Homo sapiens: one gene and its partners. The protein of the gene in region 6 interacts with the protein of the main gene of each other region in a pairwise test. Each region holds a gene or a part of one and is shown on either strand. Other genes may lie near its edges.

What was found.
Region 1: the proteins of CCHCR1 (region 6) and ZNF629 interact in binary tests that used the Homo sapiens proteins (3 or more experiments, as listed by UniProt).
Region 2: the proteins of CCHCR1 (region 6) and TSHZ3 interact in binary tests that used the Homo sapiens proteins (3 or more experiments, as listed by UniProt).
Region 3: the proteins of CCHCR1 (region 6) and BFSP1 interact in binary tests that used the Homo sapiens proteins (3 or more experiments, as listed by UniProt).
Region 4: the proteins of CCHCR1 (region 6) and NME7 interact in binary tests that used the Homo sapiens proteins (3 or more experiments, as listed by UniProt).
Region 5: the proteins of CCHCR1 (region 6) and TACC3 interact in binary tests that used the Homo sapiens proteins (3 or more experiments, as listed by UniProt).
Region 7: the proteins of CCHCR1 (region 6) and EFHC2 interact in binary tests that used the Homo sapiens proteins (3 or more experiments, as listed by UniProt).

What each region holds. Positions count from the first base shown.
Region 1 is NC_000016.10:30,781,081-30,784,205, forward strand, and holds part of ZNF629 (zinc finger protein 629), read right to left. Parts: coding exon 638-3,125; 3' UTR 1-637. UniProt on the Homo sapiens protein: May be involved in transcriptional regulation.
Region 2 is NC_000019.10:31,276,437-31,279,936, reverse strand, and holds part of TSHZ3 (teashirt homolog 3), read left to right. Parts: intron 1-184; coding exon 185-3,390; 3' UTR 3,391-3,500. UniProt on the Homo sapiens protein: Transcriptional regulator involved in developmental processes. Functions in association with APBB1, SET and HDAC factors as a transcriptional repressor, that inhibits the expression of CASP4.
Region 3 is NC_000020.11:17,507,380-17,510,879, reverse strand, and holds part of BFSP1 (filensin), read left to right. Parts: intron 1-1,883; coding exon 1,884-1,991; intron 1,992-3,500. UniProt on the Homo sapiens protein: Required for the correct formation of lens intermediate filaments as part of a complex composed of BFSP1, BFSP2 and CRYAA. Involved in altering the calcium regulation of MIP water permeability.
Region 4 is NC_000001.11:169,294,798-169,298,297, reverse strand, and holds part of NME7 (nucleoside diphosphate kinase homolog 7), read left to right. Parts: intron 1-3,500. UniProt on the Homo sapiens protein: Possesses an intrinsic kinase activity. Displays 3'-5' exonuclease activity with a preference for single-stranded DNA. Does not seem to have nucleoside diphosphate kinase activity.
Region 5 is NC_000004.12:1,728,021-1,731,520, forward strand, and holds part of TACC3 (transforming acidic coiled-coil-containing protein 3), read left to right. Parts: coding exon 1-767; intron 768-2,866; coding exon 2,867-2,942; intron 2,943-3,151; coding exon 3,152-3,281; intron 3,282-3,500. UniProt on the Homo sapiens protein: Plays a role in the microtubule-dependent coupling of the nucleus and the centrosome. Involved in the processes that regulate centrosome-mediated interkinetic nuclear migration (INM) of neural progenitors.
Region 6 is NC_000006.12:31,141,939-31,144,870, reverse strand, and holds the end of CCHCR1 (coiled-coil alpha-helical rod protein 1), read left to right. Parts: intron 1-82; coding exon 83-184; intron 185-1,457; coding exon 1,458-1,609; intron 1,610-1,736; coding exon 1,737-1,908; intron 1,909-2,154; coding exon 2,155-2,279; 3' UTR 2,280-2,432; downstream 2,433-2,932. UniProt on the Homo sapiens protein: May be a regulator of keratinocyte proliferation or differentiation.
Region 7 is NC_000023.11:44,333,673-44,337,172, reverse strand, and holds part of EFHC2 (EF-hand domain-containing family member C2), read left to right. Parts: intron 1-3,500. UniProt on the Homo sapiens protein: Microtubule inner protein (MIP) part of the dynein-decorated doublet microtubules (DMTs) in cilia axoneme, which is required for motile cilia beating.

The DNA of each region.
Region 1 (3,125 bases), on a different chromosome or scaffold from region 6:
TTCTTCCTAGTCTCTGTCTTATCTCCTCTGGGGGCTCCAGAGCTCCTGGTCACTTATTTTTCTCCTATTTTCTTCCTTTTCAGTTCCACCCAGTTCCCACACCACTCCCCCAGCTGAGCATCTTCCTCCATGAGAACTGTCCAGGGCTGCTGGGAGAGAACATTGTGGAACAGTGAGGGAGAGGTGTTTTCTGCATCATCTGAGGGTCGTTACTCCCGGGTCAGTGCCATTGCGGTACTTCCCCGACCCTATAGGATTTTCCTAAGGATTTTGATACAATTTTATAGGGTTGTTCAGAGACATATTGGGACCTCTTCCTACAATTAATAGGGCTTTTATCCACTATGGTTTATAGGGTTTTTCTGCTACAGACTTAAAGGGCTTTTTTTTTTCCTACATATTTATAGGGTTTCTAACCCAACAGTTTTTCTCTACTGCCTTATAAGTGCTTCCCACCAACAATTTTATAGGGTTTCTCATCACTGATGTAAAAGCACTATTTTTTCCCAGGGTTCTTTCTCCTCCACTCCACTACCATCTGATAGGGTTATCCTCCCTTCCCCATGTAATTTTTTTGGGGGAAAAAATCCAGTGTTCCTCTCTGGAGAGAGCGAGGCCCCTGGTCTCCAGACCCATTTCACAGGGAGACACCTGGGTGGCAGCTCCTATGGAGCAGGAGGGCTGCGACTTCTGTGAAGCCGGCTCCACACTCGGGGCACAGATAGGGCTTTTCTTCCACTAGGGTTTTGGGGTTTTGCCCTTCCCCATGGCTGCTGCTCTCTGTGGGGGTAGGGGTCTCGCCCTCACCTTCCTGATCTGTGGACAGGGTGACTGCCTCTGGAGGGGGGTCCTCGGGATTGGGGGGTTTTTCCTGGGTGTGGGTTTCTTGGTGCCGGGTGAGGGCCACGCGGTCGAGGAAGGAGGCCCTGCAATCTGAGCAGCGGTAGGGTCTGGCCCCCAGGGGGCTCCTGAGATGCTCCAGGAGGACGGAAGAGCTCTTCCCCAGCTCTGGACTCTTCTGGGAGCTCTTCCCGCCTGCATGGACTTTCTGGTGCAGCAGCAGCTCAGAGCTGAGGCCAAAGCTTTGTTTGCATTCAGGGCATTTAAAGGGCTTCCCACTTAAGAAGGGGCTGGGCCCTGCGCCTTCCCCTAGGCCAATTCTATAATCAGGAAAGAGAAAGGGCTTTTCGTTGCCGTGGGTGAGCTGATGCTGGAGGAGCACAGAGCGATCCAGGAAGCTCTCTCCGCAGTGGGAGCAGATGTAGGTCTTGGAGGACAGCAGCCCCCGCCTCTGGCTGAAGCCCTCCTGACCCTCCGGCGGCTTAAGGGGCTGTCCGGGGGCCTCCGCTCTGCCCTCCGCAGCCCCGGGGTAGGAATTCCCTCTGAAAGGGAGCCTTGGGGATCGTAACTGAGGAGGTTTGGGGGCTGCGTGTGCGATGAGGCCGTCTGCATTTTTGTAGGGGTTTTCTCCGATGTGGATCCTCTGATGTTGCATGAAGATGCCCTCGTCGTTGAAGCCCTTTCCGCACACGAGACACTTGTGCGGCTTGGCTCCCGGCGGCGGGGTCAGCAGGGAGGGGTCCCCGAGCCCCAGCAGGCTGTCGCCCTGGGCCCTACGCGCTGGGGTCTTCCCCCTCTCATGGATCACCCGGTGCTGCTCCAGCTCGTGGGCTTCCAGGAAGGCCTTCCCGCAGTCGGAGCACACGAACAGGTTCTCGTCCATGTGCGTGCGGACGTGGGTAATAAGGTTGGAGCTCTGGCTGAAGCTCTTGCCGCACTCGGGGCACTTGTAGGGCTTCTCGCCGGTGTGCGTGCGGCGGTGCTGGATAAGGTGGGAGCTGCGGATGAAGCTCTTGCCGCAGTCGGAACACTTGTAGGGCTTCTCACCGGTGTGGATGCGCTGGTGGCGGATAAGGGTGGAGCTCATGATGAAGCTCTTGCCGCAGTCGGCGCAGATGTAGGGCCGCTCGCCGCGGTGGATGCGCTGGTGGTTGATGAGGTTGGAGCTGACGCTGAAGCTCTTGCCGCACTCTGGGCACTTGTAGGGCCGCTCGCCCGTGTGCGTGCGCTGGTGCCGCAGCAACGTGGCGCTCAGGGTGAAGGTCTTGCCGCACACTGGGCACTTGAACGGGTCCTCGCGCAGGTGAGTCCGCTGGTGCTTGATGAGGGTGGAGCTGTGGCCGAAGCTCTTGCCGCACTCTAGGCACTCGTAGGGCTTCTCGCCTGTGTGCGTGCGCTGGTGCTGGGTCAGCTCCGAGCTCTGGATGAAGCTCTTCCCGCACTCGGTGCAGCGGTATGGCTTCTCGCCCGCGTGGATCTTCTGGTGCTTGAGGAGGTTGTGGTTCTGGCCGAAGCGCTTCCCGCACTCGGGGCACTTGTAGGGTTTCTCGCCTGTGTGGGTGGCCTGGTGCTGGATGAGGTCCGAGCTGCGGTAGAAAGCCCGGCGGCACTCGCCGCACTTGTAGGGCTTCTCGCCGGTGTGGGATCGCTGGTGCTTGATGAGGTTGGTGCTCTGGGTGAAGGCTTTCTCGCACTCCGTGCACTTGTAGGGCTTCTCTCCCGTGTGCGTGCGCTGGTGCTGCACCAGGTTGGAGCTCCAGCTGAAGCACTTGCCGCAGTCGGGGCACTTGTAGGGCTTCTCGCCGGTGTGCGTGCGCTGGTGCTGCACCAGGTGCGAGCTCTGCGTGAAGCTCTTGCCGCACTCGGAGCAGGTGTTGGGCCGCTCTCCCGTGTGGATGCGCTGGTGCCGCAGCAGCTTGGACCACTGGCTGAAGCTCTTGCCGCACTCGTTGCAGATGTAGGGCTTCTCCGCCCCCGCCGGGCGGCCCTGCACCAGCTCCCGCAGGCTGGGCTCGTTGGCGGGGACGACTGGGGGGCTGTTCCATGTGGTGAGAGCGCCCCACTGCCAGCTGGCCTCGCAGGCCTTGGTCCAGTCAGATGGGGTAGGGACTACCTCCGGGGCTGGGGGGTCCAGGGGGATCTGGTGGTCCAAGGGATTGGAGTGACCCAGTGGGGTTGGGGGGTTCTGGGGGACAGAGGGGTCCTGGGAGGATCTCTCCAGGGACATCTCTGTTGAGTCCTTGGATTCTGGACTCTGAGCCGGGTCTCCCATGATGATCTCCTCC
Region 2 (3,500 bases), on a different chromosome or scaffold from region 6:
ATTTTAACTGTTTAATTTTACAAATACATGTACCCATCTGGGTTGCTGTGTTTTCCTGAGAGCCCAGAACATATTCTAGGTAAGATCAACAAGTACTAATGCTTTTTTTTTTCTTTCTCTCCTTCTCCCTGTCTCTCTTCATTCCATCCTACCTGTCTCTCTTTCCCACCTGTTATCATGGCAGCCTATGTTTCCGAAGAGTTAAAGGCTGCTGCCCTGGTGGACGAAGGTTTAGACCCAGAGGAGCATACGGCAGATGGAGAGCCCTCGGCCAAGTACATGTGCCCGGAGAAGGAGCTCGCCAGGGCCTGCCCCAGCTACCAGAACTCCCCGGCCGCCGAGTTTTCCTGCCATGAAATGGACAGCGAGTCACACATCAGTGAGACCAGTGACCGAATGGCTGACTTTGAAAGCGGCTCCATCAAGAACGAAGAGGAGACCAAGGAGGTCACGGTCCCACTGGAAGACACGACTGTGTCGGATAGCCTGGAGCAGATGAAGGCCGTGTACAACAACTTCCTCTCCAACTCCTACTGGTCCAACCTCAACCTCAACCTGCACCAGCCCTCCTCGGAGAAGAACAACGGCAGCAGCAGCAGCAGCAGTAGCAGCAGCAGCAGCTGTGGCAGCGGGAGCTTCGACTGGCACCAGAGCGCCATGGCTAAGACGCTGCAGCAGGTGTCACAGAGCCGCATGCTCCCGGAGCCCAGCCTCTTCAGCACCGTGCAGCTGTACCGGCAGAGCAGCAAGCTCTATGGCTCCATCTTCACGGGGGCCAGCAAGTTCCGCTGTAAGGACTGCAGCGCTGCCTACGACACCCTGGTGGAGTTGACGGTGCACATGAACGAGACGGGGCATTACCGCGACGACAACCATGAGACCGATAACAACAACCCCAAGCGCTGGTCCAAGCCTCGCAAACGCTCCTTGCTGGAAATGGAAGGGAAGGAAGACGCCCAGAAGGTGCTGAAGTGCATGTACTGTGGCCACTCCTTTGAGTCCCTGCAGGATTTGAGTGTCCATATGATCAAAACAAAACACTACCAAAAAGTGCCTCTGAAGGAACCCGTCACTCCTGTCGCCGCCAAAATCATCCCTGCCACTCGGAAGAAAGCTTCCCTGGAGCTGGAGCTCCCCAGCTCCCCAGATTCCACAGGTGGAACCCCCAAAGCCACCATCTCAGACACCAACGATGCACTTCAGAAGAACTCCAACCCTTACATCACGCCAAATAATCGGTACGGCCACCAGAATGGGGCCAGCTATGCATGGCACTTTGAGGCCCGGAAGTCGCAGATCCTGAAGTGCATGGAGTGTGGGAGCTCGCATGACACCCTGCAGGAGCTCACTGCCCACATGATGGTCACTGGCCACTTCATCAAGGTCACCAACTCTGCTATGAAAAAGGGGAAGCCCATTGTGGAGACGCCTGTCACACCTACCATCACAACCCTGCTGGATGAGAAGGTCCAGTCCGTGCCCCTGGCAGCCACCACCTTCACGTCCCCCTCCAATACACCTGCCAGCATCTCCCCAAAACTGAATGTGGAGGTCAAGAAGGAAGTCGACAAGGAGAAAGCGGTCACTGACGAGAAACCTAAGCAAAAAGACAAGCCTGGCGAAGAAGAGGAGAAGTGTGACATCTCTTCCAAATACCATTACTTGACTGAAAATGACTTAGAAGAGAGTCCCAAGGGGGGGCTTGATATCCTCAAATCCTTGGAAAACACAGTGACATCCGCAATCAACAAGGCCCAGAACGGCACTCCTAGCTGGGGGGGCTATCCCAGCATCCATGCCGCCTACCAACTTCCCAACATGATGAAGTTGTCCCTGGGCTCGTCGGGGAAGAGCACGCCCCTGAAACCCATGTTTGGCAACAGTGAGATTGTCTCCCCGACGAAAAACCAGACCCTGGTCTCTCCACCCAGCAGCCAGACGTCCCCCATGCCCAAGACAAACTTTCATGCCATGGAGGAGCTGGTGAAAAAGGTCACTGAGAAAGTTGCCAAAGTGGAGGAGAAGATGAAGGAGCCGGATGGGAAGCTTTCCCCGCCCAAGCGGGCCACTCCCTCCCCATGTAGCAGCGAAGTCGGGGAACCCATCAAGATGGAGGCATCCAGCGATGGGGGCTTCCGCAGCCAGGAGAACAGCCCCAGCCCCCCGCGGGATGGGTGCAAGGATGGGAGCCCCCTCGCTGAGCCGGTGGAGAATGGCAAGGAGCTGGTGAAGCCCCTAGCCAGCAGTTTGAGTGGCAGCACGGCCATCATCACCGACCACCCGCCTGAACAGCCTTTTGTTAACCCTTTGAGCGCCCTGCAGTCAGTCATGAACATTCACCTGGGCAAGGCCGCCAAGCCCTCCCTGCCTGCCCTGGACCCCATGAGCATGCTTTTCAAGATGAGCAACAGCCTGGCGGAGAAGGCTGCTGTGGCCACCCCGCCGCCCCTGCAGTCCAAGAAGGCAGACCACCTCGACCGCTATTTCTACCACGTCAACAACGACCAGCCCATAGACTTGACAAAAGGGAAGAGTGACAAAGGCTGCTCCTTGGGTTCAGTGCTTCTGTCACCCACGTCCACAGCCCCGGCAACCTCCTCATCCACGGTGACAACGGCAAAGACATCTGCCGTCGTATCATTCATGTCAAACTCGCCGCTACGCGAGAATGCCTTGTCAGATATATCCGATATGCTGAAGAACTTGACAGAGAGCCACACGTCAAAATCCTCCACTCCTTCCAGCATCTCCGAGAAGTCTGACATTGACGGGGCCACTCTGGAGGAGGCTGAGGAGTCGACGCCCGCCCAGAAGAGGAAGGGCCGCCAGTCAAACTGGAACCCCCAGCACCTCCTGATCCTCCAGGCCCAGTTTGCCGCCAGCCTCCGGCAGACCTCAGAAGGGAAGTACATCATGTCAGACCTGAGCCCCCAGGAGCGGATGCATATCTCCAGGTTCACCGGGCTGTCCATGACCACCATCAGCCACTGGCTGGCCAACGTGAAATACCAGCTTCGAAGGACAGGTGGAACAAAGTTCCTCAAAAACTTGGACACTGGCCACCCCGTCTTCTTTTGTAACGATTGTGCGTCCCAAATCAGGACTCCTTCCACGTACATCAGTCACCTAGAGTCACACTTAGGCTTCCGGCTACGGGACTTATCCAAACTGTCCACCGAACAGATTAACAGTCAGATAGCACAAACCAAGTCACCGTCAGAAAAAATGGTGACGTCCTCCCCCGAGGAAGACCTGGGGACTTCCTATCAGTGCAAACTTTGCAATCGGACCTTTGCCAGCAAGCACGCTGTTAAACTTCACCTTAGCAAAACACACGGGAAATCTCCGGAAGACCACCTTCTGTATGTCTCTGAGTTAGAGAAGCAGTAGCATTTGCTTTTGATAGAAAGGACTGCAGTTTGCTTTGAGGGAAACTGTGGAAGGCACCTTCAGGCCCCCTCTGACTTGTTGTTCTTGGCACATGTTCTTATTTTAACTGC
Region 3 (3,500 bases), on a different chromosome or scaffold from region 6:
TTGGTGGATTGGTCAAGAGATAAGGTTCTGGGTCTTTTTGCAAGGATGACCTAGGATGGTGGCTCTCAACCCTGGTGACACTTGAAATTGCCTAGATGTGTGCTCAGGCCATGCTCCGAGTCAATGAATGGGCTTCCCAGGAGGTGGGGCCTGCCCAGGACCAGCATGCAGACAAACTGCTGCAGAACCCATGGGCTGGGGTCACCGGCTGCCTGAACTTTTTCGTCTTAATTATTTTATACAAAGCTAAAGAAATCCCCAAATTTGCTTTAGAAGACACTTTTGAACCCTGCAAAGTATCATCTAAGCGACAGGAAAGTTACTTTTTTTGGCATTCATGAGGATAGTCTTGTCTGAATTGCCCACCAGTTACCATTTCAGGATCCTGTTCTCCTTAGTGGATGTAACTGATGTTGCTACAAAGGCCTAAAAAAACTTTTCCTGAAGCCTTAATTTTCTTTCCCAGAGATTCCTTTCCAGAGATGTTACTTTTATTTTTCAAACCCAACTCTAACTCAAAGGTGTTTTACATCCGAGCATACCTTTTGAATTGTATCATCTATTCCCATGTAATAAGACCCTTCTAAGTCATAAGTATACAGACACTAAACTGACTTTGATGTCATCGATCAGCATCGTCTGGGCTTGTGAGACGTGCAGAGTGTCCAGTCCAGCCTCAGACCCACTGAGGCAGAATCTGCATCTTAGCCAGATCCGCAGGGACTCGTGTGCATGCTCAGGATAGAGAAGCACCGATTGAGAAAGTGTCACATCTTTATGAGTCTTAGCTTAGCAATTCTACAATCAAGTTAGACGGTCACTTTCCTGTATGTCTATGTCATTGCTGCAGCCACTTTGTAAGGTGTTTGAAGCAGAGGCTGTCTTCCATGCAGCCTCTGGACACAGAAACCCTCATTGTAGACTTGGTGTTTGATTTTGCATGGCTTCGAGTCAATGTGCTCTGTGTCAGAATGCATGGCTCTTGAGCAGTCAGGCCTTTGTGAAACAATTTGAATATTTTTGAATAGACGTGGAAAGGCAGGTCAGGAGAGAGGGACCTGCTTGGCAGAGTGTGGAGAGGTCAGAGGATTTCCTTCTAGCCATTCCCTGGAGCGTCACTTCCCTTTCACCCACTGGGGCTGATGGCTCCTGCTTTGTGCTGCGCTGACATCCGAGCACAGCGTATGGCTCGCGGCTCCAACCAGCCTTCATTTTCTTCGAGAGTGTGCATTCCAGGTTTTCCCTTTCACAGAAGGGAAAACAGAGGCTTTGAGAGTCAAATCCTTTTCTAGAGTCTCTTAGTAGGTTCATGGCACAGCCAGGTCTAAGCTCTGGTCTCCTGGTACTTGGTCCCGGCATGTCACACTCCCAAGGAGGTTCAGACTTTGAAGACAAAGCAAAAGGCATTGATGGCTGTGCTGTGGGCCTGGCTTAGTCTTCTCAGGCTACTATAACAGGACACTACAGATGGGAGGGCCGACAGGCAGACATTTACTTCTCACTGTCCTGGGTGCTGGAAGTCCAAGATCAAGATGCCAGCAGAATTGGTGTCTGGTGAGGGCTCTCTTTCTGGCTTGAAGACGGCTGCCTTCTTGCTGTGTCTCACGTGACAGACAGACAGGGGGTGGGGGTGGGGGCTCTGGTGTCTCTTCTTGTTCTTACAAAGACCCTAATCACATGATGGGGCCCCCCATCCTCATGACCTCATCTAACCCTAACACCTTCCAAAGGTCTCCTAAAACCTTCATCTTGGGAGTTAGTTAGGGCTTCAACACAGAATTCAGGGGGACACGGATATTCCGTCCATACCAGGGCCCCGCACCTTCTCTGCCCTTTTCCTCTCTGCATGTCCCATGAGTCTGACTCTGGCCTTCTCTGTGCAGGAGAAGCTCCTGACGGAGCGGGAGGTGGCCGCCCTGCGGAGTCAGCTGGAGGAGGGCCGGGAGGTGCTCTCCCACCTGCAGGCGCAGAGAGTGGAGCTGCAGGCACAGGTACGCTCGAGTCTGCCGCGTGTGCATTGGGGCTTCCCACATGTTTCATGGAGGTGTTACGCGCAGGCACACGCATGCAGCTTGAGGAGCTGTCACACGCTGAACATATCCTATGTTCCTGGCAGAAACGGGGTTTTCTGAGTGGGTGGCCAAGCGCTCTGCTCTGGCCTGGACTGAGGAGTTTTCCAGGACACAGGGAGAGTCCTGAGCTGGGGGACACAGGTGCCACGCTCATTCCTGGCCCCTCAGAGGTGCCCCTTGGGACTCCTTCGAGTCATGCCCTCCCCACCGAGTCTTAGGCTTAGGCTGCCCCAGTGTCTACATCATGCATTCATTTTGCCCAGGTCAAGCTTCGTAAGAATAAGAAGAAACGGACACCATAGGGATTTTTATCCTCCACTTGTTCAAATCTGTGCTTCTGTTTTCCTTCTCATGGTAACAGTTCTCCTTCGGAATTTGATTACAACCCGGCAAGAGTGGTTGTATCAGTGTTTGCTTCTAGTTAGAAACGTGTTGGTGGAAAGCTCACATTTCTACCCCCACCCCTTTTGGGTGAAGCTTAATTTGAAAACAAAACAGAAAAGCCCCAAACTGTCCTGTGGCCTGTGCCTTCTTGGCTACTTGCCGGCTCATCTTCTTTGTTCCTTCCGGTTCTCTCTCTTTCTCATTACCCTACAGCAGGTCATTCCACAGGGACGCTTGGGTTAAAATACTGCACCTTTGTATGGCTCTCTAACCACATTTCCCAAACCAAAAAGTAAGTTGACATTTGGTTTGACAAGTACACATGGGGACAAGAGAGCAAAACGTGTAAAAATCGGACACTTCAGAAAGCCTGGACCATTTGGATGTTATGTGTTACTCTGTCTAAAAATGTGAAGCCACAACTAGATGTAGCGCTTTTTATTGATTTCCAGTGCCCCCATGTCTGCTCAGGATTTCATTTTGGGACCTTGGAGTTCACATCCTAATTCCCATCCCAGCACGCACCACACAAAACTCACAGTGCAGCAGCTCTCAGGGGCTGCTGGAAAGCAAACCCGGGTCTGTGGTGGTCCCCTGAACTGACGATCGCAGCAGGAGGAACCAAGTAAGGCACTTAAAACTCCTCCTTCTTGTGAGACAAACCCTGGCTCAGGGACCATGTGCCTCATCCTGGTGACTGGGGCCTGTGTGGTTTCTTCTGAGGCTCTGACAGGATAGAATAAGGGTTGTATGTGTTTGTGTACATGGGGTGTGTGTGTGTGATATACATGGTATGTGTGATATATGTGGGATGTGTATGTGAAGTGTGTGTGGTGTGTGTGTGTCATGTGTATGTGTGTGTGCTGTGTATGTGAATAGGGACGTGGATACAAGCCCAGTCGTGGTCCTAGAGACCAGTGTTTTCCAAATGGCTAGTGACAACTCATTTTTGGATGTAAAATGAACTCAGTAGAATTGACTGGCATGTAAAAGGAAGTCAACAAAATGCTAGACTAAAATATAATAAGAAAAACAGAGTGTACA
Region 4 (3,500 bases), on a different chromosome or scaffold from region 6:
ATTACTGAGGCTCCTAAATGTTTGAATTATTGAATTCATGTAAGAATACCAGTTTATGGCTAGTAGATATTAAAAAGAAGATATAATTTGAGATATTTCCTTTTGATTCAGACGTAACACTGTGCTTTCAAGCTTAACATCCTATTATTTTCCTATATATAGCTAGTGTTTATGAAAGTTTCTCTACTCCTTATTTTTAAATCCATATAAATAAAGCATTTATTGGATTTATACTGAGGTTGAATTAAAGAAGTGTAAGTTTATTTTTAGCATCGTGAGAAGTGTCTCACTTAAGGTAGTTTTTAATCTGGTTGTGTTTGCAATGAAACAATATTAGACAGTTTTATAATTGATTTCTTTCTTTTTCCTACCATTTCATCAGCAAGTCCCTTCAGCTCTTTCAAAATAAACCCTGAATCTGATCATTGTGGTCTGAATCACTATTATATTTTGCCAGAACTGCTACAATAGCCTCCAAATTCTTTTTTCCTCTTTTCTTACACTCAATTAATGAAAATTTTACCTTACCCAAGTAAAATCAGCTATGCCCAGTGATCTTTTAAAGACAAATCAGATTAACATTCACCTGCTGAAAACCCTTCAGTGAATTTCTGTCTCTTCTAGAATAAAATCTAAAGTCTTTATTGTGGCCTCCAATGCTCTATCTAGTCTGGCCCATATCTATCTCTAACTGTATCTTTGATCAATCTCTATCTTAATCATTGTGTTCCAGGCACACTAACCATCTCGCTATTCCTTGAATAGCATATTTCTGTCTGGAATGGTCAACTAACAGCAAAGAGGACAGTGTGGTTGGATAGGAATGAGAGAGGGAGGAAGAGGGTGATGAGGTTACAGAGGTAATTAGGGGAAAGATTATATGGTCTTATAGGCCGTAGTAGTACTTTTAGATTTTTCTCTGAAAAAATAGAGAGCCATTTTAGGGTTTTGAACAAAGGACTGATATCTTCCACTTGCCATTTAAAAGGATCATTCTGGCTGTTGCATTAAGAATGACTATAGAGGCTGGGAGTGGTGGCTCACACCTGTAATCCCAGCACTTTGGGAGGCCAAGGCGGGCAGATCATTTGAGGCCAGGAGTTCGAGACCAGCCTGGCCAATATGGTAAAACCCTGTTTCTACTAAAAATACAAAAATTAGCTGGGTGTGGTGGCGCCCACCTGTAATCCCAGCTACTCCAGAGGCTAAGGTGGGAGAATTGCTTGAACCAGGGAGGTGGAGGTTGCAGTGAACTGAGATCATGCCACTGTGCTCTAGCCTGGGTGACAGAGTGAGACTCCATCTCGGGGGAAAAAAAAAAGAATGACTATAGAGGGCAAAAACAGCAACAGGGAGCCTAATCAGGAGTCTGTTGGAATAACCCAGTGAGATGATGGCTTGGACCTGGGTGGTAATAATGAAAGAAGTATACAAATATATTTTAAAATATATATTAACGGTTGAAGGTCAAATAAACAAGATTTTCTGCTAGATTGAATGTAGAGTATGAGAAAAAGATACCAAGTATTACTCCAAAGTTCTTAGCCTGATTATCAGAAGGATAGAATTTACGTAAACTGAAATGAGGAAAACTGTGGCTAGAGTCAGAATGAATGGACAATCAGGAGTTAACGTTTTGGACATTTATAAACTTAACCTGTTTGTTAGTTTTCCAATTAGACTGATGAAAAAAATTAGTGTGACAGCTTAGAGTTATCAGCACATAAATGGTATTTAAAGCCGGGAGACTGGTTGAGATTACCAAGGAGAAGGTATAGATAGAGAAGTAAAGAGGACCAAAGATGAAGCTACATCTTGATAAAAGGTAAGGAGAAGAAGGCAGCAAAGGAGGTTGAAGAGGAGCCACCAGAGAGGTAAGAGGAAAAACTGAGAGATAATTATGTCCTGGAGGCCAAGTGAATCAAATATTCTAAAATGAGAGAATGACCAGTGGTGTCAAATAAGGCAAGTAAGAAGAGGACTAAGAATGGATTGTTAAATTTTGCAATGTGGATATCATTGGTGAACTTTGTAAGGTGAATGTTGATGGGGAGGTGGAGGCAAAACCCTGTGTGGAGTAGACTTAAAAGAAAATTGTGGGACGGGAATTGTAGTTAGTGAATATAGACAACTTTTTTTTTGAGGAGTTTTTTTGAGGAGTTTTCCTGCAAAGAGATGAGGTGGTAGCTGTCAAGAAAAGTAGTATCAATTTTTTTTAAGAGGAGAGGTATTGGGTAAAAAATTGATGATGTAGGAAAAAGAGGAAGACTTGTTGGAGCAATTTCATTAATTAGGCAAAAGGAAATGGAAATTAGAACCCAGGTGGAGAGATTAGGCAGGTGTGCCTCTCAGGTACTCGTCTATAGCAACAGATGGGAAGGGAGAATATGTGAACACAGATGCTGATTCTTAAGTAGGAAGCAAGATCAAAACAGCTGAAAGTGAGGATGAGGTATAAGGTATTGGTTGGTCTGAAGGGAGAGAAGAATATGTGAAATGGTGATCTGGAAAAGGAATAGATCAGGGAAATGTGGTGTGTGATTGCTATACTGAATTAATGGCCCATGTAGTGTTCATGGCCATGAACTATGAGTGTGGTTCTCCAGCCTGTTCAACTGCATGGCTGAAGGTAAGGAGTAGGTGGAGAGCTGGCTTTTAACCATGGCTGTGGTTTTGTGAAACAAATGTGACGGAAGTGTTAAGGAAGTTAAAGATACATGCAAGAGAGCAATTATAGTCTTTGACCATATCTTAGTAGTAGACATTTATTGTAAATGTGGTATTGTTTTGTATAGTTAAATTTCCAATCATATTTTAAAGCATTATAAAAATAATAAACATATCTAATTAATGAAGGAAATAATTGAGGCTGAACTGAAAGTCACTACCATGTTTACTGATATTTCCTGCCTATTTCACCCTATTACCACCTTATGCCATCCATTTCTTTTTTATTTCTACTAGATTATTTAATAAATTTGAGCATAAATATACTTGTTAGATTTTAGCATATCTTGTAGTGGAGCAACTTTTGTTAAGTTAGCTACTGTCTCAGTCCATTTTGTGTTGCTGTGAAGGAATACCTGAGGCTGGGTCATTTATAAAGGAAAAAGGTTTATTTGGCTCATAGTCCTGATGGCTGGGACATCAAGATTGGGCATCTGCATCTCGTGAGGGTCTCAGGCAGCTTCCACTGCCTGAGGTGGAAGGTAAAAGGGAGCCTGCGTGTGCACAGATCACATGGTAAGAGAAGAAGCAAGCCACCGGGAGAGGTGTCAGGCTGTTTTTAACAACCAGCTTTCAGAGGAACTAATAGAGGGAAAATTCGCTCACCTTGGAGGGAGGGCATTAATCTATTCATGGGATTTACCCCTACTATCCAAACCTCCCATTAGGCCCTATCTCCAACATTGGGGATCAAATTTCAACGTGAGATTTGGAAGGAACAAACATCCAATCCAGAGCAGCTACCATTGCCATTTCACCTAAAGAAATGTCTT
Region 5 (3,500 bases), on a different chromosome or scaffold from region 6:
AGGACAGAGTCCCAGCACAAAGCGGAGACTCCGCACGGAGCCGAGGAAGAATGCAAAGCGGAGACTCCGCACGGAGCCGAGGAGGAATGCCGGCACGGTGGGGTCTGTGCTCCCGCAGCAGTGGCCACTTCGCCTCCTGGTGCAATCCCTAAGGAAGCCTGCGGAGGAGCACCCCTGCAGGGTCTGCCTGGCGAAGCCCTGGGCTGCCCTGCGGGTGTGGGCACCCCCGTGCCAGCAGATGGCACTCAGACCCTTACCTGTGCACACACCTCTGCTCCTGAGAGCACAGCCCCAACCAACCACCTGGTGGCTGGCAGGGCCATGACCCTGAGTCCTCAGGAAGAAGTGGCTGCAGGCCAAATGGCCAGCTCCTCGAGGAGCGGACCTGTAAAACTAGAATTTGATGTATCTGATGGCGCCACCAGCAAAAGGGCACCCCCACCAAGGAGACTGGGAGAGAGGTCCGGCCTCAAGCCTCCCTTGAGGAAAGCAGCAGTGAGGCAGCAAAAGGCCCCGCAGGAGGTGGAGGAGGACGACGGTAGGAGCGGAGCAGGAGAGGACCCCCCCATGCCAGCTTCTCGGGGCTCTTACCACCTCGACTGGGACAAAATGGATGACCCAAACTTCATCCCGTTCGGAGGTGACACCAAGTCTGGTTGCAGTGAGGCCCAGCCCCCAGAAAGCCCTGAGACCAGGCTGGGCCAGCCAGCGGCTGAACAGTTGCATGCTGGGCCTGCCACGGAGGAGCCAGGTCCCTGTCTGAGCCAGTAAGTGTGAGGATGGGATGGGGAGCGTGGCGTGGGGCAGCTGCCCTGCAGTGTATGTGGTCCAGGACCCGAGGCCAGAAGTGTCATCAGATACTCCTTTGAGGCCGGGTAGGTTCTGCCTGAGGAGGGGCCTCTGGATAAAAACAGGGCTCAGGTGGCTCCCAGCTGAGGGTGCTTGGCCTTGCCTTGGCTGCCATGCATCTCTTTAGTGCTCCTGGCCTAAGGAGGGATCCAATAAGGGCGGGCTCAGGCCAGAAGCCAAATGCAACCAACCCTGGGCAGGACCCTGTCCCCCAGTCATGTTCCTCCTCAGGTGAACTTGACTTGGGTGTGTAACTCCAAAAGCCAGGCAAAGCCTGTTACTGCCTGGGTGGCGTCCGCTGCTTGCTGGGGTCTTGGCCGTGGGTCTGCTGCCTCCTGGCTGAATGGTCTTAGGCTACATCTCCTAGAGTTGCTCAGTGGGAGATTGTCCTGCCTGTAGGGTCCAGCCCTACTGGGTCTGTGGGTTTTTTCTCCTCGTGTGCATAGACAAGAGATTGTACAAATAAAGACACAAGAAAAAGACAGAAGAAAAGACAGCTGGGCCCGGGGGACCACTACCACCAAGGCACGGAGATCGGTAATGGCCCCGAATGTCTGGCTGCGCTGTTACTTATTGGATACAAGGCAAGGGGACAGGTTAAGGAGTGTGAGCCATCTCCAATGATAGGTCAGGTCACGCAAGTCACGTGTCCACTGGGCCCTTCCCTGTTTGGCAGCCAAGGCGGAGAGAGAGGACAGCTGACGCCATTATTTTTTCTATGTATTTCAAAGACTTTAGCACTTTGACTAATTCTGCTACTGCTATCTAGAAGACAGAGCCAGGTGTACAGAGCGGATCATGAAAGTGGACCAGGAGCGTGACTGCTGAAGCACAGCATCACAGGGACACAGGCCTCTGGATGGCTGCGGGCGGGCCTGACTGATTCCACAAGAGATGGTGGAGCAGAGTCTTCTCTAACTCCCCCAGGGAAAGGGAGACTCCCTTTCCCAGTCTAATTAACGGGTGCCTTCCCAGGCACTGGTGCTACCGCTAGACCAAGCTAGGTAACGGGTGCCTTCCCAAGTGCTGGTGTTACCGCTAGACCAGGGAGCCCTCCAGTGGCCCTGTCCGGGCGTGACAGAGGGCTCACACACCTCTTCCGGTCACTTTCTCACCGTGTGCCTTCACCTCCTATCTCTATATGGCCTGGTTTTTCCTAGGGTTATTTGTTTGTTTGTTTGTTTTTTGAGACAGAGTCTCGCTCTGTCACCCAGGCTGGAGCGCAGTGGCGTGATCTCGCCTCACTGCGAGTTCTGCCTCCCGGGTTCACACCATTCTCCTGCCTCAGCCTCCCGAGTAGCTGGGACTGCAGGCACCCGCCACCATGCCCGGCTAATTTTTTTGTATTTTTTAGTAGAGACGGGGTTTCACCGTGTTAGCCAGGATGGTCTAGATATGACCTCGTGATCCGACCGCCTCGGCCTCCCAAAGTGCTGGGATTACATGCGTGAGCCACCGCACCCGGCGTTTCCTAGGTTATTATTGTAGAACAAAGATTATTATAATATTAGAATAAAGAGTAAAGCTACAAACTAATGATTAACGATATTCATATATAATCATATCTATAATCTATTTCTAGTATAACTATTCTTATTCTGTATATTTATGATACTGGAACAGCTTGTGCCCTTGGTGTCTTGCCTTGGCCCCTGGGTGGCTTGCTGCCCACACCTGCCCCAGCCTCCACATTTGAAGCCTTTTGTCAGTTTCACAGTAAAAGGGATGTACTCATCCTTGTGATTCCCTTTGGCTGCATCGTGCTGACTTTAGAGCTCCCAGCCTGCTTCTCCCAGAGCTGGCAGGCAAGGCGCGTGTTTTCCTGCTGGGTGAGGTTGGTGAGGCAGTTTTGTGGCCAGGTCGCTTGGGACAGCCCCATGCCTGGCACGCTCTAGCTGAATGTTCACGTGGCCGGCACAGCAGTGCAGGGAAAGGCGATGGCAGCTCAGTGCTGGAGCAGGGGACGCCGGGGTTATGGGGTGGGGGGCATGGGCCTCTGCTGACTCTGTCTCCCCAGGCAGCTGCATTCAGCCTCAGCGGAGGACACGCCTGTGGTGCAGTTGGCAGCCGAGACCCCAACAGCAGAGAGCAAGGTAAGGGGTGCTTGTGTGGGTACCTGTGCTCCTGGCCTGGTCGTGTAGAAGAGTAGCAGGCAGTGGAAGCCCCCAGCAGCCTTGGGTGACGGGGTGGGATGTCCCGCTCCCTCTCCCCCAAGTCTACTTCAACAAGGTTGTGGGGAGGCAAAGCCACACCCCAAGTACCTTGACTGCACTGCACAGGGTGACTCTGCCCTTTCCTCCAGGAGAGAGCCTTGAACTCTGCCAGCACCTCGCTTCCCACAAGCTGTCCAGGCAGTGAGCCAGTGCCCACCCATCAGCAGGGGCAGCCTGCCTTGGAGCTGAAAGAGGAGAGCTTCAGAGACCCCGCTGAGGGTACGTTGCCTGGCACAGACGTCACACACAGTCTGCCCGGAGGGGATCCCGTGAGCACTTGGGCAGCTCGAGACACCTGCATCATCGGCAGGTGGTCATTTCGCAGGCAGTTGGGTCCCTTGACTTTGAATGACTCATGCACAAACTTGTGGTTTGTCAAAACTTAGTCAGTGTTAGGAGAGCAGGGCTCATACCTTTAACATAAAAGACTTCTAGAAA
Region 6 (2,932 bases):
ATGGGTGCTTCCCTTGGAGGGTGGGGTGGGAACTGCGAATCAAAGCTCCTGCTGATATGCCCCGTCTGCACTTTCACCCCAGCCCTGCAAGAAAAGGTGGCTGAAGTGGAAACTCGGCTGCGGGAGCAACTCTCAGACACAGAGAGGAGGCTGAACGAGGCTCGGAGGGAGCATGCCAAGGCCGGTGAGCCTTGCCAGGGTGGATAGGGCCTTCCAGGAAGAAGGAAGTGTTAAGACATAAGGTTATTATTTTCCCCTCAAAGTGTGTTCAAAGCTTCATTACAGGAAGTAATGAAGGTATCCAGGAGTAGCACAGATGAATTATCACATCGTGAACACACCCATGTAGCCAGCACCAGATTAAGAAACAGCATATGGCCGGTCGCGGTGGCTTATGCCTGTAATCCAAGCACTTTGGGAGGCCGAGGTGGGTGTATCACCTGAGGTCAGGAGTTTGAGGCCAGCCTGGACAACATGGCGAAACCCTGTCTCGACTAAAAATACAAAAATTAGCTAGGCCTGGTGGTGGGCACCTGTACCCCAAGCTTACTTGTGAGGCTGATGTGGGAAGACTACATGAACCCGGGAGGTCGAGGCTGCAGTGAGCCAAGATTGTGCCACTGCACTCAAGCCTGGGTGATAGAGAAAGACCATGTGTCAAAAAAAGAATTGTGTAATGAATGTATCTTCTCTAACTAAATATAGCAGTTAACATTTGCCACATTTGGTCTCTTATCTATATACACACATATTTGTACATCTTTTGAATCACTTTAAGTTGTAATCATTTAATGTTTTGTTGTTGTTGTTGTTTGAGACAGAGTCTTCCTCTGTCACCAGCTGGAGTGCAGTGGCATGATCTTGGCTCACTGTGACCTCTGCCTCCCGGGTTCAAGCCATTCTCCTGGCTCAGCCTCCCAAGTAGCTGGGATTACAGGCGCCCACCACCATGCCCAGCTAGTTTTTGTATTTGCAGTAGAGACGGGATTACACCATGTTGGCCAGGATGGTCTCGAGCTCCTAACCTCGTGATCCGCCCGCCTTGGCATCCCAAAGTGCTGGGATTATAGGCGTGAGCCACCACGCCTAAGTAAGTTGTAAACATAAGTTGTTCAGCCGCATCTCCCAAAGCCAGTAAATTCTCCTATATAGCTGCAATCATCACACTTTAAGACAGTGAACACTAATTGCACAAAATCTAACCCAGTTCATGTTCAGATTTCCCCTGAGGAACTCCAGGATGGTTCAGGGATGAGGAAGATACTTAGGTTCAGATTCCCAGGCTCCTAGAGCATCAGCCCACCCCTCCAACTGTACAGAAGAGACAGATCCACAGAGCAGAACAGCCTCCCCAAGCCACAGAGTTGGTGACCCAGCGTTTGTTCCTGTCTTCATGGTGCCTGGCTGCCTCTGGCCTGACTCACACCTGCCTCCTCTGTGCCTTGGCCTCTCTGTAGTGGTCTCCTTACGCCAGATTCAGCGCAGAGCCGCCCAGGAAAAGGAGCGGAGCCAGGAACTCAGGCGTCTGCAGGAGGAGGCCCGGAAGGAGGAGGGGCAGCGACTGGCCCGGCGCTTGCAGGAGCTAGAGAGGGATAAGAACCTCATGCTGGTAGGAGACAGGAGGGCAGACAGGCAGACACTAGGGCCCATCCTGGGCTGGTTCCTGGGCTAGAGGTGTGGAAAGAGGATGGTGAGGGAGGCTCTATCCGGGCTAGGTTTAACCCTCTCCTTCCCAGGCCACCTTGCAGCAGGAAGGTCTCCTCTCCCGTTACAAGCAGCAGCGACTGTTGACAGTTCTTCCTTCCCTACTGGATAAGAAGAAATCTGTGGTGTCCAGCCCCAGGCCTCCAGAGTGTTCAGCATCTGCACCTGTAGCAGCAGCAGTGCCCACCAGGGAGTCCATAAAAGGTCTTGGGCCAAGCACAAAGGGACAAGGGACAAATGCGCGCACTTCAGGAATCTCCTCTTCAGACTCTCGCATGATGAGTGTTGTTCTCTGCGGTCCTTCGAGGCCCTTAGCCTCTTTTAGCGATGCCCAGCTTGGACCAAAGAGCCTCCTCTCTCCCATTCCTCATTTCCTGTGCCAGCCCTGTTTCCTCTGTAACCACGAGCACCTTCCCTTGTCTGGTGCTCATCTGCTGTCTTCCTTCCCAGGGTCCCTCTCTGTCCTGCTCGATGACCTGCAGGACCTGAGTGAAGCCATTTCCAAAGAGGAAGCTGTTTGTCAAGGAGACAACCTTGACAGATGCTCCAGCTCCAATCCCCAGATGAGCAGCTAAGCAGCTGACAGTTGGAGGGAAAGCCAGCCTGGGGGCTGGGAGGATCCTGGAGAAGTGGGTGGGGACAGACCAGCCCTTCCCCATCCTGGGGTTGCCCTGGGGGATACCAGCTGAGTCTGAATTCTGCTCTAAATAAAGACGACTACAGAAGGAGCCATTGTTTGGAAATGTTATTTCTGGGAATCTGTGGGAATTCTCCCTGCAGCCATCTCTCTTGGAGATTGTGAGAAGTGGTCCCACCCATAGCTCTCTCTATGGGTGGCACCTTTTCAAATCCTTTTTCTAGGCAGCTTTGGAAATGTTTGGGAAGCTCCTGCTTTTCTTTATTCTCAACTTTTGTTTTAAAACTCTTTTCTTCTGGAAGATGATAAATGCTAGGAGTGGGGAAGATGAAACATTCACTCGTTCAACAGGAATGTCAGAGCTAGGCACTGTATTAGCCTGGGGGCCACTTGGACCCTGAGAGCCTACATCCTAGTGGGAGAGCGAGCGAGCAGATGGGACCTAAACAGATGAACGAGATCGTTTCAAATAAGTGCTTGAAGAGAAAGTACAGTACGATGATATGATAGAAACTGACTCTGGGGAGAGGCCTCTGAGCAGGGGACCTTGTGCAGAGGCCTGCCTGAAGTGGGCTCCTGTGGAGGCCAGGA
Region 7 (3,500 bases), on a different chromosome or scaffold from region 6:
TGTTAAATAATTCAAGTTATTTCTGTTTATATCTAAGATGGAATTTACTTTTTCAAAAAGTAGGCTAAGATGATTTAATTTAAATAAAGGTTGTAAACTCGTAATTAATGCTGTTTTCAACATCAAAATGTATTGACAATGTTACATAATAAAGCTACTAAAACTATATGACAAAGCATTATGAGTAAAAATATAACCTAAGATATAATTTTATACAAGACTTAAAAATTAGGTTCTTTTACTGACTGACATGATTGGGCTTAAATATAGGCAGTTACAAAATTATAATCTTGATTTCTTTATAGACCTGTATGTACATAACAGTCTTATTTTTTAAAAGCTAAAAATAAATAATAAAATTTACCTCTCCACTCTGAAATCTGTGTTTATATTTTGCCACATAAATAATTCCGGGTCAAGCTTGAAATAAGCACACATCAATTTCATTTTCAACTGGAATGAGAAGATTTCTGGCCTTTTCAATACTTGTTAAACAAGGAAAGCTTTGCTTACATGTATAAGAAGTTGAAAATTATAGCAAAATGGTCATTGCTCTCCTATGAATGGCAGGATGCTTACTTTTATGTAAATTTTGAACTGGCCATATGGTAGGTGTGTGTTTATCTTGATAAGAAATTACCATTTTGCATTCCCACCAGCAATGATTGAGAATTTCTGTTATTCCAAATCCTTGTAAGCAATTGGTATTGCCAGTGTTTTGGATTTTAGCCATTTTAATAGGTGTATAGTGGTATCTCCTCTTTTCTCTCTCTCTCTTTTTTTTTTTTGAGACTGAGTCTCACTCTGTCGCCCAGGGGAGTGTAGTGGCGCGATCTTGGCTCACTGCAACCCTCTGCCTCCCAGTTCAAGCTATTCTTCTGCCTCAGCCTCCCGAGTAGCTGAGATTACAGGTGTGTGCCACCACGCCCGGCTAATTTTTGTATTTTGGGTAGAGACGGGGTTTCACCATGTTGGCCAGGCTGGTCTTGAACTCCTGACCTCAGGTGATCCACCCACCTCGGCCTCCCAAAGTGCTGAGATTACAGGCCTGAGCCACCACACCCGGCCTGGTATCTCCTCTTGATTTTAATTTTTATTTCCCTAATGGCTATGATGTTGAACATCTTTTTATGTGCTTATTTGCCATCCGTATATCCCCTTTGGTGAAATGTCTGTTCGTGTCTTCTACTCATATTTAATTGGGGAGTTTCCTTACTTGAATTCCTGACCTCAGGCGATCCGCCTGATGAGTTTTGAAAGTCATTTTTAATATAGTCTGGATACAAGTTGGGTGCAAGTCTATTATTGAATGTATGGTCTGTAAATATTTTGTTCCAGTCTATGGCTTGAATTTTCATTCTCTTAAAGCAAGGCTAAAAAATATGTACATATATTTAAGGATAAAATATAACATGAGTTCAAAAACTATTGTTTTCAATGCAAATTAAGGATTATAGGGTTTTTACTTCTTTGATTTTATATATTTACATGTAATCTTGCTTCATAAGTACATTAGCTGAATTACTTATCCTAACATAAATAAAAATATACAACCATATAATAATTTTTAATTAATAATAACATTATTAACAATTTGAGTTTTGAAAATAGTTTAAGATTTCTTTATAGCTATTTCTGTTGTGAGAGTATATCCCACCAGGAATGTATAGTCAAATTACTGGGTTTTAGTTTCATTTAAATCATTGCTGTCGGTATGGTTAAGTCACCAACTCAGTATCTAGTTAGGTTCATTTGTTTCATTGTGCTTTTGTTTCTGAACTTAAAAAAAGGCATTTGTATGGTCTCAAAGTCAAATTTGCAAAGTAAGTTACTTTCAGAGAGCTCTAGCTTTTATCTCTGTCTCTTCAATCTTATTCTCTCCCTCTCTCCATAATAACTTAAAGAAAAAACTTTATTTAGTTTGAGGTTATCCTCTTTCTCTTCCTCCTTCTCTTCTTTCTTTTTTTTTTAATTTTTAAAACAGCAAATTGTTAAATTTATTCACATGTTCCCCTTTTATTCAATACTTGGTAGCATAATCTACACAGTCTTTTGAACCTTCCTTTTTTCATTTTAACAGTATATCTTGGAGATCACTTGGTAGTGGTATATAGGGCTCTTCCTCATTTCTTTTTATAGTTACATAGTACTCCATTTTGTAGACTTACAATAGTTTATTCAACCATCCCCTTTTGGTGTACAGTTACATTATTTCCAGTCTTTTGTTATCCAATAATGTTGCAATAAATAGCCAAACTGTGCTTCAAAAGACACTATCAGAAAAGTGAAAAAGCAGCTGACAGTGTGGGAGGAAATATTTATAAAGCATATTATCTGATAAGGGACTATATTCAGAATATGTAAATAACTCCCAAAACTCAATAATAAAAAGACAAATAGGCCAGGTGCGGTGGCTCATGCCTGTAATCCCAGCACTTTGGGAGGCTGAGGCAGGCGGATCACCTGAGGTCAGGAGTTTGAGACCAGCCTGACTAACATGGAGAAACCTGTCTCTACTAAAAATACAAAACTAGCCGGGCGTGGTGGCGCATGCCTGTAATCCCAGCTACTCGGGAGGCTGAGACAGGAGAATCACTTGAACCTGGGAGGCAGAGGTTGTGGTGAGCCGAGATCGCACCATTGCACTCCAGCCTGGGCAACAAGAGTGCAACTTCATTTCAAAAAGCCAACAAACAAACAAAAAGGCAAATAATCCAGTTTTGGTGGTATGGGATTGCTGGGCAGACAAAACAATTGCTGTCTACTATGCTAGATCACAGGATAGTTTTGATATAAAGAATTCTGTCACTTTGTTCCCAGTAACTATTAAAATATCCTTGAAATTACATTATTTCAGATTGGGCCGCTTATTGAAGCTGCCATCCATACTTTGGAAATAACATATTCCATTGCTATTCCTAAATGTTCATTTGAATTTCAGGAATTAGAGTCTCTTTGCCTATGTAGGATTCAAACACCTAATTTTGGTCACCATGCATTCTGTACTGAACTTCGTAGCTCTGTCACCTAGGGTACATTTGACTATAAGTCACAGAATACCTGACTAACAGTGGTTTAAGCCAAATTAATTTTCTCATAAGAACTTTAGAGGTGTAGCAGTTTCAGATTTAGGCAGTGACTGATGAATGTCATAAAGAACCCAGGCTCTTTTTATCTCTGCATTCTGCCATCTTCAGAATATTGGCTTTTCTTTCTTAGGCTTGTGACCTCATAGTTGCAAAATAGTTGCCTCAGTTCCAGTCATCACAACTACATGTAACCATGTTCAAGACAAGCAGGAAGGAGAGGGAGGGGAAACAGCTCTTCTTATATGAGAAAACAAAATGTTTTCCAGGAGCCCCCCAGTAGATTCCCTCCTTCCATCTTATTTGCTAAAATTGATGCACATGGCCATCCTTTACTACAAGGAATGCTGGGAAATTATCTTGTTTTTTTTTTCACCATCTACTTTTGGAGGTGGGAAAGGGAAAAGAGGGTTC